2 separate regions of the Homo sapiens genome follow, and region 1 is linked to region 2. The links come from fine-mapping of genetic effects on gene expression. A gene starts in region 2. The other region holds a variant in brackets. All regions are shown on one strand. Distances are between the middles of the regions.

Region 1 (9,406 bases), 110 kb after region 2:
CCCGGCCTCCGTGTGCCCACATGAGGTGTTCATCACTTCCTTCAACTACCCTTGGAACTAGATCCAGGGTTCAGTCACTCAGTGACAAGCAGCAGGTGGAGTGGCTGGAGTCTCAGAGGGAAGGAAGTGACATGCCGAGGGAGTGAGAAGGAACATCTTGTCCGTCATTTCCCAGCAGGGAGGCTGACCAGGAAAATGAGGAAGTGGGGCTGGGTGCCAGCAGAGTGGTCCCCAGAGCTGAAGCTCACACACTGGGGCCAACGTGGGCCTAGAGGGAGGAAGTGTGCAGTGATAGGACCAGAAAGCTCCAAGTTTTCTCCAGGAAGAGCAGACACTGAGTCTCAGGAGTGTGGGGTGCAGATCCTGGGGGTGCGGCTCGGGCAGCCTCGCCAGGCTTTCTGTGAGTGGCTGGAGACTGCACCCTGTGCTCCTGGGCAGTGCCAGCTGGGGTGTGGCCCAGTGCTGATCCAGCCCCATGAAGACAGTGGGTATGCCCTGGACTGAACTCCCTGGCCTACTGGGCTGCTGCCTGAGACAGTTAGATATAACTCTCCATCCTTCCGGGCCTGGTGGCGCATGCCTGTAATCCCAGCTACTTGGGAGGCCGAGCAGGAGAATCACATGAACCTGGGAGGCGGAGGCTGCAGTGAGTCGAGTTTGGGCCATTGCACTCCAGCCTGGGCAACAAGAGTGAAACTCTGTCTCCAAAAAAATAAATAAATAAAAAATAAAGAAAGACACCACAGAAACAGACGCCTAACTTCAGAGATTTCTGGGGCTCTCTCTGGACCGAGGAAATCCCAGTTTTGTCAAGAACCACTCCTGTAATAGCATCTTTCTTGTCGGGATTTCTGCTGAATTGTGTTTACCTCCTTTGCATGCCGGAGTCCTCGTTCCCAGGCACTCTCTGTTGGGGGCTCTGGAGGGGGTGGAGGCAAAATTTCATCAACTACCGGCCCACCCTATTGAAAAACGAGAAGGGAGAAGGTGAGAAAGTAAAACTTTCAAGTGTACAGAGAAACCAGACAGTAAAAACATCAACTACAACACAAGCCGGCCGTGTGTGGCCGCTCTCCTTCCACCAAGCCTCACTCCGTCCTCGGAAAGCCGAGGCCTGCTTCCACTCGGGACGACAGAAGCAGCCGAAAGGGGGCACTGAGCCTGTGCTAAGGCACAGTGACTTGTCTTAAGCTTGAGATTCAGACACAGCTCAGTTGGCTGATGTGCTAACAATGAAAGAAGAGGCATCACGCACCCAAGGGTTGGCGGGCATCAGCGGGTGAGGTCCGAGAGGCGGGGCACCATTAGGCGGGAAGGGGTCGGCTTTGGTGATTAGGGAGTAGTTCCCCTTGTCGTTCACTCCAGGGTGTATAAACCTACAATTCATTCCCCAGGTACAGTTCCCTATGGAAACAAAAGTGAGATCAGAAAGGGTCCACAAGAGCCTAATTGCACAAGGGCAGCTGCTGGGGTGGGGGGTGGGAGGGGGCAGAGGCCATGTTTACCCAGGCCTGATGGCGAGCCACACAGTAGTGGGAACTGAACGGGGAGGTGGGCGGGATGAGCCTGGAGAGGCTGAGCCAGACAGCTGCACCTGCCCAGGCACGGCAGTTCCCCAGAGGCTGCCAGGCACCTCGGTCAGAGTGACCACAAAGTCACTTTGTGGAGAGTTCACGCGTATCAACTGTCTGAGTATTAATTTTCCCCTTAAACCAGAAAAGCCCCAGAGCTTTGCTTCCAGCCCTGGCCCAGGCTCATCTAGGTACAACTGGATGTTAATTGTATTTGTGCCGAAACAGACATCAATGAGAAGCATTAACAATGATCAGAAGCCTGCAGGTGTGCTCAGGGTCCCCTTGGCCACCTCTGTACGTCTGCATTTCTCTCACAGAGAAAACTCTCACAGGGCATTTCAAGATATTTCTGGAACTGAAACGGGCTTTTACACTTTGCTCATAAATAACAATCACAAACCTTCATCTTCAACAGAATATCCGGGTTAGTAAAGGAGACCTCGACTTTCAAGTGTAGAATATAAGACATCTAAGTGTCTAACTCAATTACTGAGTGAATCACTTTTTTAAAATGTACTTTTTTGGGAATAGATAATGTGTACACATTGTTTAAAACCAAATATGGCATATAGTATCTAAGCGGTTTAAAAATTTTTTTCAATGGGTTAACATGCAGTTAGATTTTAAATCATTTAAAATTTTAACCTTAAACATCAGGAACACTTAAGCCTGCATTAAAACCAACTCAATACAACATAATAACAATATCGATCCAAATTAAACACGAAAGAAAACTTAAAACTGCTTCTCTGGAAATGCAAAAATGACAAGTAATTTTTAAAATTTCTAAAAGCATTTCAGAGATCACACATAAGTCAAACGAAGTTGGGAGGCCAGGCGTGGTGGCTCACGACGTCAAGAGATCAAGACCATCCTGGCTAACATGGTGAAACCCCGTCTCTACTAAAAAATACAAAAAATTAGCCGGACGTGGTGGCAGGTGCCTGTAGTCCCAGCTACTTGGGAGGCTGAAGCAGGAGAATGGCGTGAACCCAGGAGGTGGAGCTTGCAGTGAGCCGAGATCGTGCCACTGCACTCCAGCCTGGGCAACAGAGCGAGTCTCTCTCAAAAACAACAACAAAAAACAAAAGAGGTTGGGAAATGTTATTCTATAGGGGGTTCAAAAATCCAGAGCCTCAGAGAGATTTAAAGAAAAACTGACTATGCAGTCATCCATCTGAGACTCAACACACTACAGAGCTCTTCATGGTTTGCCTCTGAAAATACTCATGCAGTATTCAAAATCACGTGTGTAACTAAACAAGTAACAAAAGCTCATTGTAAAAAATGTCCAAGTACAGAAAAGTGCTGACAATAGAAACCACAGCTTTTCTGTACTCCTTTTCCTTTTTTTTTCAGATGGAGTCTCACTCTGACTGAGTGAGACAGTCCCAGGCTGGAGTGCAATGATGCAATCTCGGCTCACTGCAACCTCCACCTCCTGGGTGTCAGTGATTCTCCTGCCTCAGCCTCCTGAGTAGCTGGGATTACAGGCGGGTACCACCATGCCAGGCTAATTTTTGTATTTTTAGTAGAGACGGGACTTCACCAACTTGGTCAGGCTGGTCTCGAACTCCTGACCTTGTGATCTGCCAGCCTCGGCCTCCCAAAGTGCTGGGATTACAGGCGTGAACCACCACACTCGGCCTCTGTACTTCTTTTTCATCTAAAATATGTATCTGGGTGGTGGCTAAATGTTATCGTTCTTTTCTGTATTTATGAAAATTTTTAGGACATCACCTACGAACCTACTATCAAAAAAGATCCTTTCTCACTGATATTGGCATGGGGAGAAAAGAGGAACAAGGCAGAAGAGAACAAACCAGTGAGCGCCAAAGAGCAAGCTGAGAAGGCGAGCGTGGGGCTGCCACTAGAGACCAGACACTAGTGGGTGACAGTGTTCAGCTCTCGGGAGCCACCTGCCCGGGGGTGCTGAGCGCTGTCCTGCCCCTGGCCAGAGTAAAGGGGAAGATGGCTCTGGAAAGCAGCACAGTTGGTCTGCACGTCTAGCTGGGACACACTTCCAGCAGACGTCAGGCAGAAAGAACACCATTGTCCCATCTATCTTTTTAAAATGTGAACTTTTATCTGTGTAGGAACACACCCAACTGTCGGGAATGTGGGAAGGGGCTTTAGATTTTATTTTCTTGCCTTCTGCCAGCCCATATTACTTTCTTTCCTTTTTTTAATTTTTTTTTTTTTGAGATGGAGTCTCGCTCTGTTGCCCAGGCTGGAGTGCAGTGGAGCGACCTAGGCTCATTGCAACCTCTGCCTCACAGTTCAAGCAACTCTCCTGCCTCAGCCTCCCGAGTAGCTGGGATTACAGGTGTGCACCACCAAGCCCGGCTAATTTTTGTATTTTTAGTAGTGACAGGGTTTCGCCATGTTAGCCAGGCTGGTCTCAAACTCCTGAAGTCAGGTGATCCGCCCACCTCGGCCTCCCAAAGAGCTGGGATTACAGGTGTCAGCTACCGTCCCCAGCCTTACTTTCATAATTTAAAAAGCAATTTGTTAAAAAAAAAAAAAAAAA[A/GA]AAGAAAGAAAGAAATTATCCAGAAAATAGAAGCAACAATAAAGATCTTCTGGTTTACAAATGGGACTTCAAACCCAAAATTTATGTGGATTGTGATTCTAACAGTATAAAGATAGTTCTGCGGATACTGTGTACACAGACATGGCCTCAGGCCAGAAGAGGACAAGGAGGGACAGAGGCCGCTGGAGCGGGGCGGAGGCGGCCCCTCCACTGCTGAAATGTCTAAGTACTATTTCTGGCTTCAAGACAGGATGATGGTCTTTTTCTTAACTGGAATGTCGGCACAGCAGCAACTGGTTTTTCTTTTGTTTTGTTTTTGTTTTTTTGAGATGGAGTTTTGTTCTTGTTGCCCAGGCTGGAGTGCAATGGCACAATCTCAGCTCACTGCAACCTCCGCCTCCCAGGTTCAAGTGATTCTCCTGCCTCAGCCTCCCGAGTAGCTGGAATTACAGGCATGCACCACCACGCCTGGCTAATTTTGTATTTTTAGTAGAAACGAGGTTTCTCCATGTTGGTCAGGCTAGTCTTGAGCTTGCGACCTCAGGTGATCCGCCCGCCTCGGCCTCCCAAAGTGCTGGGATTACAGGCATGAACCACCACGCCCAGCCAACTGTTTTATTCTCTTATTAATCTTTACGCTTGTGTAAACACTGTATTATTTTATATATATGAAATATTTCATAATCAAATGAAATACTTGTAAATAAAAAATACCCACCCACTCTAAAAGGTACACTGTGAAGTTGACCACCTATCCCATGCCTCCAGGGCCATTCCCAGAGGCAGTTATCAATATACTGGGGCTCCATCCATCAATCATTGCCCCCTTTTACCTGAGCATATATATTATGCTCTGTGCTGAACCTTGCTTTTTTTCACTAAACAATGTAACTACAGAAAGGGAACCTGCATGCTCAGTAGCAACCAACCCAAACTGGATCAGGGAAACAGACAGGAAACAGATAGGAAACATGGAAAATCCGGAAACTAAACACAGAGGTGGCAGGAACTGAGGCTCAGCTCATGCTCCAGCACAGCCCACACATGAAGTATCTTTAAATGTCTCTTCTGATTTTGAATACAGTAAATATCAATTCCCTGTGTTTACTTGGTTTATATGTGTCATTTCTATTGATACGTACGATATTAGAAATTAAGAGACACTTAAAGATATCTCATTATTTAACAATAACAAGATATCCAATATATAGTAACAAATATTTATGAAACTGTTTTTAAAATATTTGGTGAGAGGAATAGCATTCTTTGCCTTTTTGCGAATCTCTTGAATGCTGACCCTGGAAAACCCCTGGCCTCCCATCTGCATGCGATCGACCATGAAGGGCCGCTGTGGCTCAAGCAGGAGAGGACATTACAGCCCCAGGAAGAGATGCAGCTAGAGAGGGAGGGGCATCTAAAAGCCTTTTCAGTGTGCTCAGAGCTTCTCCCTGACACCGCACTCAGCAAGGGAAGGCTCCTTACAGCGAGCTGCAATTGAACCCTATCACCACACTTTTCCAACTTGGTTCTTCTGAAATCCATTGGTCTATCTTGAACTTTGAATGGGTCTTTTACCCAGGCATGATTCTGTGACATCCTGCAATGGTCACCTGAGAAAGTCCTGACACACTGAGAAGCTGGTGAGCACACAAAAGTCCAATTTTCAACTGAAAGCTCCAATTTTAATACTGCTAACACTGTCCGTTGTTCTCCTTGAAGCCACAGGCTCACTTTGTTCCTGCCAGGACCCGGATCTGCATTCCCTGGCATGTCTGCCAGTCTTTCTCATCAATGTGTGCTCCACGGAGAGCGCACAGGGTCAGCCGCAGCTCCAGCCTTGCACGTGCTGCCCCTTGAGGCCGCTGGACTTGGGTGCCGGCAGGGGCTCTACCCACGCTGCCACTCCACCACGCTGAGTACTGAGACACACACAGAAGCTCTGCTTTCTGGCTTTCCACAGTTTCAGTTACCTGCGTCTGAAAATACTAAATCGAAAATTCCAAAAATAATTCCTAAGTTTTAAATGATGTTCTGTGCTGAGCAGCGTGATGAAATCTTGTGCCGACCTCCTCTGCCCCACCTGGGACACGAATCATCCCTTTGTCCAGCAGATGCAAGCTGTCCACGACGCTAACTGCCCACTAGTCACTTAGCAGCCCTCTTGGCCAACAACCGTTGGGGGTACGGCGGTGCTGTGCTCACTGTGGCTCAGTGACCCAGGATCACTGGGGGCAGGTGACCTTCCTTCTGACGCATTGGCAGGAGGTCAAGGGGGGCCCAATGCTAAGTGGCAGGGCCTCCGTGTCATCATGCGAGCATATTTCATCCCACGTCATCAGATGGCTGAGTGGCTGAGTGCAGTAAAGTGAGCTCTTTTGAGAGATCACATTCACATTTTTATTACAATTGCTCTATTTTATGATTGGCTATTGTTGTTAATCTCTTACTGTGCGTAACTTATAAATTAAACTTTATCATAGGGATATGCTTATATAATCATGGAACTGTACACTTAAAATGGGTCAATTTCATGGCACATAAATATTACTTTAATAAAGTTTTTTAAAAAGAACTTACGAATAATAAAAATAAATAATACATCTGTACACAAGTGTAAGATTTAATTAAATTACAGTTCTTACTACTACAGCACAGACATGAAGTAAAGTGGCATTCGAAATGCCAGTGCATGGTGAATGCCTGGCTCAGCCTTACTGTTATTATAAATATAGTTTCGATTTGGGAGGCCAAGGCGGTCGGATCATTTGAGGTCAGGAGTTCGAGACCAGCCTGACCAACTGAAACACAAAATTTAGCCACTACTAAAATACAAAAATTAGCCAGGCATGGTGGCATGCGCCTGTAATCTCAGCTACTCGGGAGGCTGAGGCAGGAGAATCGTTTGAACCCGGGAGGTGGAGGTTGCAAGTGAGCTGAGATCACGCCATTGCACTCCAGCCTGGGCAACAGAGGGAGACTGTATCTCACAAAAGTAAAATAAAATGAAAGAAAAAGAAAAATAAATAAATATAGTTTTGACCTCAGGGTCCCCTGAAAGGGTCTCAAGGACTCCCAGGGGTTCACAGATGACACTCAGACCTGCTGCTTTAAACACAGTTTTGCAAGGATTCAAAACTGAGCAAAAGACATTTCTCCAAGAAGATACACAAATGACCTATTAAGCACATGAAAAAAGACACCCCACCACCCATCTTCAGGAAAGGCAGATCAAAACCCAGTAAGATATTACCTCCTACCCACTGAAATGGCTACTATCAAAAAAAAACAGAGAACAGAGTAATGGTGAGGACGTGGAGAAACTGGAAGCCCCCACACCACTGGTGGGAAAGTAAAATGGCACAGCCACTGTGGAAGACAGCTTGGCGGCTCCTCAAAACATGAAACATACAACCACCAGGTCATCAGCAACTCCACTGCCAGCGGCTCCGCAAAAGATGAAACACACAACCACCAGGTCATCAGCAACTCCGCTGCCAGCGGTTCCTCAAAAGATGAAACATACAACCACCAGGTCATCAGAAACTCCGCTGCCAGCGGTTCCTCAAAAGATGAAACACACAACCACCAGGTCATCAGCAACTCCACTGCCAGCGGTTCCTCAAAAGATGAAACACACAACCACCACGTCATCAGAAACTCCGCTGCCAGCAGTTCCACAAAAGATGAAACACACAACCACCAGGTCATCAGCAACTCCACTGCCAGGCACATGCGAAAGAGCTGAAAGCAGGGTCTGAAGAGATTTTTACGCCCACGTTCACAGCAGCTCTATTCACAATTGCCTAGAGGTGGAAACCACCCAAGTGTCCACCCACAGATGAGGGAAACACCCAATGCAGCTGCTCCACACTAACAAATATTGGTCAATCTTTTTTTTTTTTTTTGGAGACGGAGTCTCGTTCTGTTGCCCAGGCTGGAGTGCAGTGGTGTGATCTTGGCTCACTGCAACCTCCACCTACTGGGTTCAAGCGATTCTCCTGCTTTGGCCTCCCAAATAGCTGGAATTAGAGGTGTGCTCTACCACCCCCAGCTAATTTTGTATTTTTAGTAGAGACAGGGTTTCACCATGTTGAGCAGTCTGGTCTCGAACTCCTAACCTTGAGTGATCCACCCACCTCGGCCTCCCAAAGTGCTATGATTACAGGCATCAGCCACCGCACCTATTATTCAGTCTTAAAAAGACAGAAGGCCAGGTGCAGTGACTCACGCCTGTAATCCCAGCACTTTGGGAGGCCGAGGAGGGCAGATCACGAGGTCAGGAGATCGGGACCATCCTGGCTAACACAGTGAAACTCCGTCTCTACCAAAAACTACAAAAATTACCTGGGCGTGGTGGCGGGCGCCTGTAGTTCCAACTACTCAGGAGGCTGAGGCAGGAGAATGGCGTGAACCCAGGAGGCAGAGCTTGCAGTGAGCCGAGATGGTGCCACTGCACTCCAGCCTGGGTGACAGAGCAAGACTCCATCTCAAAAAAAAAAAAAAAAAGTATTCCACCACAATTTTAAAAAATTAGGGGGAGCACAGCCAAGGAGATCAGACCCAAAAAATGGACTGGGATGCTTGTTCACTGAGGGATAAATCAGAAGCCCAAAGTAGGGGCCGGGTGTGGTGGCTCACACCTGTAATCCCAGCACTCTGGGAGGCTGAGGTGAGCGGATCACCTGAGGTCAGGGGTTCGAGACCAGCCTGGCCAACATGATGAAACCCCATGTCTGCTAAAAATACAAAAATGAGTTGGGGGTGGTGGCAGATGCCTGTAATCGCAGCTACTCGGGAGTCTGAGACAGAAGAATAGCTTGAACCCAGGTGGAGGTTCCAACGAGCCGAGATCTCACCATTGCACTCCAGCCCGGGTGACAGAGCGAGACACTGTCTCAAAAAAAAAAAAAAAAGAAATAAAGAAACCCAAAGTGGGACACAGTTTAAAGAAGATGCTACTTACTCCTCTGTGGACAGAACTTTGTGTCCTGATGATCCAACACAGGCCCACGAGAGATAAAAACATCCCATGAAGAAGTACAGCTCCAGTTGTAGTGTATGTGCTGTGGAGCCGGGCAGGCGTACACAAAGCACTGATCTCTAAAATGTGAGCAAGGTGTGTTCCCAGTGCATTTTGCTGTCATTTGGTCACAAATCTCAATGTGTCCACTAAGCGATTAAATGATTAATCTCTATATCACAACGTGTCGGAGATAAAGCTAAGAGAGGCCTGAGCAGTGGCTCATGCCTGTCATCCCCATACTCTGGGAGGCTGAGGTGGAAGGATTGCTTGAGCCTAGTA
Region 2 (9,124 bases):
CAGAATGGGCTTCACTTCGGCCAGGGTCTTTGATCTCTCCTCTAGGCTCTGGCCACAGGCTGCTCCCTCTGAAAAACCCAGGCAGAAAGAGTCAGGGCTCAGAGAGGAGCCAGGCAGGGCAGGCTGCAGGGCCACCTCCACCTGGGAAAACCCTTCGAGGCCTCGCTCCGCAGGGCGGTGCTTCCTGGCGGAGCTGTGGGGTGTCGGCCATTTTCCTTTGGGCAGGGGTTTCTCTCTTGCGGCTGACCTCAGCGCTACAGTCAACACCCCAGGAGTTCGTTCTGCAGGAGCAAGGGTCGGGGAGTCGGCCCCTGGGCCCCCGCTCACCATCAGCACTTAACTTGCCCTTCTTTGTCCCCAGACCCCGTGATGGGGGCTGGGCAGCCGCCACTCCTGCTCCCACCCCCGACTTTCTAAGGATGTTCTTAGATTCCAGGAACAGTGATGCCACCTAACGATGGATACATCTGCTGCCTCCTTCAGGGAGATGTCCCCACCAGGCCCTCAGTGCAGGGGCAGCACCAGTAGCTCAACACATCCTACCAGAGGGAGGACCGGCACCAGAGGGAGGGTCCACACCAGAGGGAGGATCCGCAGGGCTTACCCCAAGTGGCCAGGGACTAGGAGGAGCAATGGCCCCACATACCGTCAACAAAGATGACTCCTGCCACAAAGCGCAGTCTTTTGGCAGAATCTTGGCTCAGGCCCTAGAGGGAGAAGCAGCAGGGACTCAGCCCCCAGCCATAAGCCACAGGACACTTTTCCAGCTCAGAACATTCTTCATCTGGATTTAATGCCATCTTGGAAGGTGAAGTGGTCTTCCCCTGCCATTGCGTTTATTGGACAAAGCCATTCAGACTCAGGTGCCGGGCAGGCCCAGTAGGCGAGGCCGCACGCCCGACTTATTTTAAAGGGTAGCCTGGGGGTCTTCATCCCCCTGGTAAAACATGCCCCTCACCAGCTGGTCCTGGATGTCCCAACAACGCCCCAGGAGAGGGGGCTGGGTTACGGGGCCACTGTGCCACCATCCCACACGCTTCTGACCACTAAGGAAGCACTTGCTCTCACAAGCAGAAACCAACAGCCTGCAAGAGGCAGGGGCGCCGCTGGGCACAGGAAGGGCAGCACCAGCGTTACACAGAGGGCTGGGCCAGTTCCCTCACAACACCCTCCTGGCAGGTTCAGGGGACCTCAGAAAACAGAAAACTAATTTCAGCAGTGTTGTGCCATGCGCCCATCCTGAGACCAACACCCCACTCCTCAACCCGGCAAAGCCGACCCCTCTCCTCTCAACCACCCAGCCCACAGAAACAGCCTCCTCCGGTCTGCACCTCTCATGAGAGTGCAGAGAAACCAAGCACATCCCGCTCCTGTGCCCTCCTGAGAAGCCCGACCTGCCTCAGACTTCCTGAGCTGACCCTTGACAGGCCACGGGCACAGCCCCACCACCCCCAGCCGAGCCCTGTGTGCAGCCTAAGCCCGCCTCCACCTCCCTGCGCGGGCCGCCGCCTCCACCTCAAACGCTGCTCCCTTTGCTTCTCCTGGCAAACCCCCGCCCCTTTCCCAATCTTCCCTCGGGTCACACATGGCTGAGCCAAGATGCAGCTTTCCACTGACTGTGTTTCTACGCAGGTTGAGCAAATGGACAGAAGTCAAGTGGGCCGCACACACGCACTCTGGACCCAGCTTCTGATTGGTGCACCTGCTGTAAACACATCTGAGAGTGGGCCGCACACACGCACTGTGGACCCAGCTTCTGATTTGTGCACCTGCTGTAAACACATCTGAGAGTGGGCCGCACACACGCGCTGTGGACCCAGCTTCTGATTTGTGCACCTGCTGTAAACACATCTGAGAGTGGGCCGCACACACACACTGTGGACTCAGCTCCTGATTGGTGCACCTGTTGTGAACACATCTGAGAACCCCCCAAGTGTCCAGGCCGCAGGGTGGACTGCTCTCTAGCCCCAACCAAGAGCCCCTCAGCAGGCTGAGAAGGGAGGCCCCCAGCCTGAAGCTCAGCCCAGCAGCCCGGGCCCACGGGGTGGTGAACACGCACCTCAAGAACCTGCCAGACCATGGAGCTGGACGAAGGCCCCCCAGACCACGCCAAGAGCACCTGGGGGAGAAAAAACATCACTCAGGGCACCGCACCTCCAACACAGGCAGACACCCCACCTCGTGGACATCTAGGACATCGAGTCTGTCCTCAAAGGCCAAGGAGGAGCTGGCGGGCTGCAGCAGGCCAGGCTGCCTGTGGGAGGGACAAGCAGGGACCTCGAGGGGCCAGGCTGCTCAGTCAGACCCCCAGGACCCAGACGCTACCTTCTCGCCTGGAAAGATGAGCCGGTTCTTGCCCAGCATGGCTCTGAACTTGTGGACGTAGAAGGCCTTGAAACAGTCCCTGCAACACAGACCTGAGATGAGGGAACCGCCTGCTACCCGCACAGTGAGCAGCGTCCTGAGGCGCTGCCAGGTGACGACGTCCTTTGCCAATCTCCATCTTTAAAAGCAGCATCTTCACATCCAGGCTCTGTCCAGAGACTGGTGAAAGGGGCGGGGTTGGCCCCTCTGGCAGTGGCTTCCTCAGGGTGAACACGAGGCTCACCGGCCCCTCCCACGACCAGGTACAAACTGCACAGCCACGGAGGCTGCATCCAGCAAACGAGGGCAGAGCCCCGGCACCCCTCCCCACAGGCGCTCAGAAGGGCCCAGCTGGTGGAGTGGACAGACTTAGGCACGTACAGGGCAAGGCCAACCCAGACCCCATAAAAAAAGACCCACCACATACAGACACCACCTCTTGGAGGTGAAACGTGGAAATGGAGCGGGCCACAGCGAGGACCCACCATGCAGAGACACCACCTCTTTGGGGTGAAGTGCGGAAATGGGGTGGGCCACAGCGAGGGCTCAGTATCCTGGGGCCCCAGAGCTGGCATCTTTAGTGTGCTGGGCTCAACTGGGCCAGGAATGGCTAAGAGGCTCACTCACAGAGTGGCCTGGGCTCCTCCCCTAACCCCACAGAATCAGAACTTCCAGGCCTGGGAACTGCATTTTTAAGAGACAGGGTCTCGATGTGTCACCCAGGTTGGAGTGCAGTGCCACAGTTATAGCTCACTGCAGCCTCAAACTCCTCGATTCATGTGATCCTTCTGCCTCAGCCACCCAGGTAGATAGGACTACAGGTTACAGATATATGCCACCATGCCTAGCTAATTGTTGTATTTTTTGTAGAGACAAGGTCTCACTTTGTTGCCCAGACTGGTCTCAAACTCCTGGCCTTAAGTGACCCTCCTGCCTGGGCCTCCCAGAGTGCTGAGATTCCAGGTATGAGCCACTGCGCCCAGCTGTAATCTTTGTTCATAATAAACTTTCCAGCCATCTGACTCTGGCTCACTACGTCAGGGGTTCTTGGCCCTGGCTGTATGTTAGAATTGCACAAACCAATTAAGTCAAATTGTCTAGGGGTGAGGCCTAGGAGTCTGCATTTTAAAGCTCTCCTGCAATCCTGGCAGGCAGGGTGAAGAGCAGCACCCGGTACAGAGCGGACAATGCCACTGCAAGAGTCACCCTGCACCTGGGGCTCTAAGTCTCTTCCTTCCTGTCAGACACACTTGATGTGCACAGCAGTCCCTCCCTACGTTGAATGGATACCACGTACAAGAGGCCGAATGACCCCCCTGTGGTTCCTTTACAGACAGTAAAGCAAGTCTGTGTTTAACAGCAAGATGCCAGGTGAGGGACTGCAGGTAACTGGCAAGTATCAAGGCTGGGACATGGGAAGTGACCCCCAGGACCCAGCTTTGGGCGTGGGGAGTCTCATACAAGGAGACACAGGTGCTGGGCTTCACCTCCGCACTGTGGACCAGGAGAGCCTCTGCGCCCTACACCACCAGCTGGGATTCAAGCGTGGTGGGTCCACGTGTACATGCTGCGTCTGGGCTCCTGAAACCACGCTGTCCCCTGTGGGTCAGGGAAGGCCAAGGTTTCTCCCACGTGCTGACCTGAATGATCCCTGGGGATCCCAGCTCGATGTAGATTCCTAAGGCCTTCCCCTAGAGAGCCGGCTCCCCACTGTTCCTTGGGACCAGCAAGCACAGCAAAAGCCCTTCTGGCCACAAGGGCCTAGCATACAGCCACAGCAGCCTCTCCTCAGTGAATTCTGCCGGCAGCCTGGTGTTCTTGGCAATTTCAGATGCTCCTGGGTGGTTAAAGAAGTACCTATCTTGGCCAGGTGTGGTGGCTCATGCCTGTAATCCCAGCACTTTGGGAGGCCGAGGCAGGTGGATCACTTGAGGTCAGGAGTTCGAAACCAGCCTGGCCAACATGGTGAAACCCTGTCTCTACTAAAAATACAAAAACAATTGGCCGGGCATGATGGCAGGCACCTGTAATCCCAGCTACTCAGGAGGCTGAGGCAGGAGAATCACTTGAACCCAGGAGGTAAAGGTTGCAGTGAGCTGGGATCATGCACTCCAGCTGTTGCACTCCAGCCTGGGTGACAGAGGGAGACTCCATCTCAAAAAAAACAACAACAACAACAAAAAAACCACGCACCACCACTGGGAATTAAGAGGGCTAAAAGGAGAGAGACCTGGTCCTCCCTTCAGGGAGCTATGAGTCTAGTGGAAACAACTGAACAATACAATGGCTACAAGCCAAGAAAGACATGACAAGCGCCTGGGGGAAAGCTAGAGGTCTTCCAAGCCTCTATCCTGCCACAGATGAAACAAGCATCTCACACGAGATTAAAAACTTTCACCCAGACCATCTGCCAAGTTCCCAAGATGCTCTGATCCGCCCCTAGATGTATTCCAGCTGCCCCCAAACGCCTGGTCCTCCTACAGCTTATCCCAGTCTAGACACCACGGCCCCACTTCCAACTGTCCCCATAAGTTCCATCAGAAACCTCATCAGGGGATCTGTGGCTAGCTCATGGGAAACTTTCCCAAGCAGGAAACCAATGCTTTCGCCTCCACTTCAACACCAGGGGCACGAGGGACCCCATCAGGAGCAGGAATAAAGTAAGTACATGTTTTTAAAAAGAATTAACAAAGCATCACAAGTTGCGGCTATCCTGTCTGCTAGCGAGGCCATGTTTGCCAGGGTCTCAGCCACCTCCAGGCCTCACCTGCAGAAGGCATCTCCGGCTCGTATCACCACAACGGGCTGCGCTTCCTTGCACTTCACACACTTCTGCTCACGGCTTTGGAGATGGGAGGGGGGAGAAGAGAGAAACACAGATCACATCTTCCCCACGCCTAGTGGGCTTTGGGGAGACAGCTCCTGTTTCTCACCCTGAGTTGGGTCAGAGAAAGGCACCTCGGTACACACACAAACCCAGGCTTGTGTTCTGTCCAAACTTCAAGAAAAACAAAGGCTCTGGGGGGATGTTTAGCCTAGAAAAGCCGGCTCAGGGGGCACATAAAGGCCGCTTTTCAGTCTCCCAAGGCTGACACGGGGAGGCGAGACAGCTTCACGGCACCAGTTCTCTCCGAATAAGGACAGCACTGTCAGCGGCAGAGCCGTCCCCAGTGGCTGCTAGGATGAGAGGCGCGAGCCAGTGGAGTAAGTCCCCTTCTAGGTGGCCGTCACCGCTTGACAGGCATTCCCCGAGTGCTAGGGAGCGAGGTCCCGCTCTCCACGCGGGGCTTCCCGGAGCAAGCCCGGCCGGGACCCTTCGGGGCAGGAGTGCGGCGGGAAGGCGAGGGGCGGCCTGGCGGGTCCGGCCGCCAGCTCTTACCTGGGCCGCGGCGCCGGGGGCGGCTCCTCAGGCGCCGGCTCCCCGTAGTCCTCGCCCACCTGACACATGGGCACGCCGGGTCCCGTCGCAGACTGTGGCGGCGACAGCGCGAGGGCGCGCCCCGATGACGTCGGAGTGGCGCCGTGACGGCCGCGAAGCCCGGCTGGGGGCGGCGCCCTACGATGACGTCAGCGCGGCGCAGTAGCGGCTGTGACTAGCGGGCCGGCCCGGGCCAGGACAGCGGGCGGCGGGCGGCGCGGGCCTGGCCCCGGGATGGCTATGTTCCGCAGCCTGGTGGCCTCGGCTCAGCAGCGGCAGCCGCCGGCCGGGCCGGCGGGCGGCGACAGCGGCCTGGAGGCGCAGTACACCTGCCCCATCTGCCTGGAGGTCTATCACCGGCCCGTGGCCATCGGCAGCTGCGGCCACACGTGAGCGCGCCCGCCCAGGGGCCGCGGGGAGGGGGCCGTGCCCCGCCGCGGGAGGGGTCGCGAGGCCGGCGGCCGCCCCGGTGCAGCTCCGGACTGGGCGCGCGGGGACTCGGGGCGCCGGGGCCTCGGGGCGCGTGGGGTCCGGGTTTCCCTGTGCCGCGCCGCCTCTGCCCTCTGGGCGCGTTCATCCCCCGCCCAGCCTCCTTCGCGCCAGCCGCAGGCGCCCGGTCCGACTGCTGCTTCGGTTCACCGGGCGACCTGCGGCCCTGCCCAAGCTCGGGGTCCCCGGCGGCTGCGGCGGGCGCTCCGGTACTCAGAGGGCAGCAGGTGCCACCGCTCCGCCAGTGGTGGTGGATTTGGGCTTGTGCGGCTGGAATGGGCAGTTGTAAATAAATAACTTGTAGTTTTTGCTATCAACTCTTGTTCGGACCCGCTGTCTGCCTGTTTTGACTACAGAGGAAAGGAGTTCCCTAAAGTTTAGAGGGGCTTGTTTGGAGTCTGATGTTCTTAGTTTTGTTTGAAGGAGAACTTGAGTCACACCGATCACTGAGTAGCCAGGCAGGCTGGTCCACAGAGGAGCAGACACTGACCACCTTGCTGGGGTTTCCAGCTGCACCAGGGCTCACAGCCGGCTCCTCCAGGGTGTTTCAGGAACAGAAACTGGAGGACGTGGCTCTCCTGGCGGGGAGCTGTGCTCAAGTATTCTGGAGCTGCCAGCCCCGTTGGGAGGAAGCCTAGATCAGTGTCTGCTCCCTCCTAAGTGCTGAATAATACAGCTCTTGAGCAAAATCAGCAGTGGCAGGGGAGAGAGAGAGCAGGAGGGCTTCCCCGCAGACATCCAAGCTGCTGAGGTGGTGGAGTGGAGGGGGGTGCACCCAGACTGGTAGGAGGCTCTAGAACATTTTGCAAGCAAAGTCAGCTGACTTCAGGGGCTCCTGGTACAGAGGGAGCTGGGACTGCTAGGTGGATGTGTGCTGGTCACCCACGGAGGTGGCAGGGCCAGTGTCAGGATGCAGAGCTGCCTTCATTACCTGTGTCAGGCAGCACAGGCGCCTGCCCACGCTGGGACAGCTCTACCTACTTCTCTTGTGAGGCTGCTACAGGCTCTGCCCCTGCTCCTCCATCTCACTTAGCCGTGACATTTTGGGGGGGCAGCCTCTGAACGGGAATATTTTTTTTTGAGACAGAGTCTTGCTCTTGTCACCCAGCCTGGAGTGCAGTGGCGCCATCTCGGCTCACCGCAACCTCCATCTCCTGGGTTCAAGTGATCCTCCTGCCTCAGCCTCCAGAGTAGCTGGGATTACAGGCACCCGCCACCACGCCCGGCTAATTGCTGTATTTTTAGTAGACAAGGGGTTTCACCATGTTGGCCAGGCTGGTCTCGAACTCCTGACCTCCGGTGACCTGCCCGTCTCAGCCTCCCAAAGTGCTGGGATGACAGGCGTGAGCCACCGCGCCTGGCAGGACTTCCTTCTTGTGAGCAGGTAGCGGGTGTTTGAAGGTGTGTTCCGCACCTTCTCATCTGTTACTGAGCGCTGTGAGGCTTGACTTAGGCCTTGTTTTAGAAAAGCCTCCCGTAGGCTTTGGGTGCCAACACCTTCACCGTGTGGTCGGCCACAGCATCTCCACTTTCCTAACCTGCACAAATTGGTCTTTGCCCTTCTTTTTCAAATATGTCTTTTCCTAAAATGTAGTTTCCATAACACAGAATGCAGAACCACATGGAATTGTGGAGCATCTTTCCTATAAAACTCCCCTCTGCCATGCTTTTCTTGGTAGAATGACGACCATCCTAGTCTCACCGCGGGTCCTGCAAGAGCTTTTCACACAGCCTTTGCCTTTCAAAGATTTTTCTCCCCGACTTTTCCTGCTGGCTTTTGTTTTCTGGCTGTTCTCTCTCTGCTTCTAACTTTGTTTCTTGTTGGTGTTGCTAAGGCATGCATGCAAATGACCACAGAAAGTTTAAAGGCTCTTCAGGTTCCCTTCGGAAGTTTGTTGCTGGTCTGGTTCTGTCCCCTCCGCAAGCTCCCCAACCAGAGCAACTTCCTCCTCCAGGGTAGATCTCTCATGGCAAGAGTATCCCAGTGTGGGGGCATGCACCCTGCTCTAGCCCTCGCGCAGGAGGCCCCCTGGGGGCCCAGCAGGAGCTGTTCTCAGCCAGGGGACAGTCTGAGCAGTGAGCCACCTCTGTAACCAGAAGCCTGTGGGCCAGGACACGCGTGATCACGAACCTGCCTGGAAGGGCTGTGTGAGCAGCCTCCACTCGTGCAGGACAGCTGTGGGGCTTGCTGAGGGTGCTGGCCTGCCAGCCAGGCAGATCCCTGAGGCACGGGCCGTCCCAGCTTCTCAGCTTGTGCAGCGGCCAGTGTGGGAGACACATTGGCAGTCCCGGGTGCCTGCTGGGAGGGCCAGTGCGCGATCGCCCCTCCCTTTGTAAGGCTGTCGACGCCCCCACACCCATCGCCCTCAGCCACTTCCTTCAGCTGAGAAGCTGCTCAGCACCAGCCCCTGGGTGGGCGCAGACAGGAACTTCCTGTGGGGGAAGCGGGCACTACTCCCGGCTGCTGGCTCTCTGAACACCAGGCTGGCAGTCACTGGAAACTAGGCCGATAGAGCACCCACCCTGTGGGTGCCTCGTTCTGCCTCCTGCTCCTCGGGCCCAGCCGCCCTGCCAGTCGGGCTGGGTTCCCTCTTGTGTCTTTCCTGAGTCCTTCCGGGGAGGACGAGGCTGTCTTCCTCCCAGCCAACCTTCTGGGCACCTTTCCTCTCTTCCCAAGCTCTGCCTGGGACCCTTTTCCTTCCCCTCAGCCCGTGGCCGTGCTGTGCAGCCGAGCCCCGGCCTGGTCTCTGGCAGCTCAGGGTTCACTCAGGAGGTGCACCATCCAGTCGTTTCCAGTGTGTTTGCAATTATGCAACAATCGATGCAATTCTAGAAGATTCTTCCCACTCCAGA

Alleles and levels. Positions count from the first base shown, and alleles are read on the strand shown. Sizes are in standard deviations (SD) of each study's normalised expression.
For the expression in fetal neocortex of the gene that starts at base 5,839 in region 2, allele A in region 1 goes with a lower level than allele GA (large effect, 1.7 SD a copy in Walker 2019).

Evidence for each region.
Region 1: its variant is fine-mapped to the expression of CTU2 in fetal neocortex (Walker 2019, PIP 0.95).

What each region holds. Positions count from the first base shown.
Region 1 is chr16:88,590,176-88,599,581 of GRCh38, reverse strand. It overlaps ZC3H18 (zinc finger CCCH-type containing 18), which reads right to left. Exons shown (of 18, transcript NM_144604.4): 4 at 1,256-1,404; 5 at 870-962. Among named protein-coding and RNA genes, the nearest start is that of ZC3H18, 24 kb to the right of the region's middle. RefSeq lists an enhancer at 7,622-7,871. The variant A/GA (reference allele first, on the strand shown) is at 4,105.
Region 2 is chr16:88,703,218-88,712,341 of GRCh38, reverse strand. CTU2 (cytosolic thiouridylase subunit 2) reads right to left here and starts at 5,839. Exons shown (of 15, transcript NM_001012759.3): 1 at 5,744-5,839; 2 at 5,132-5,206; 3 at 2,326-2,404; 4 at 2,060-2,119; 5 at 647-707; 6 at 1-68. The coding sequence starts at 5,811. RNF166 (ring finger protein 166) reads left to right here and starts at 5,934. Exons shown (of 6, transcript NM_178841.4): 1 at 5,934-6,171. The coding sequence starts at 6,017. RefSeq lists silencers at 5,571-5,880, 5,921-6,200 and an enhancer at 5,822-6,459.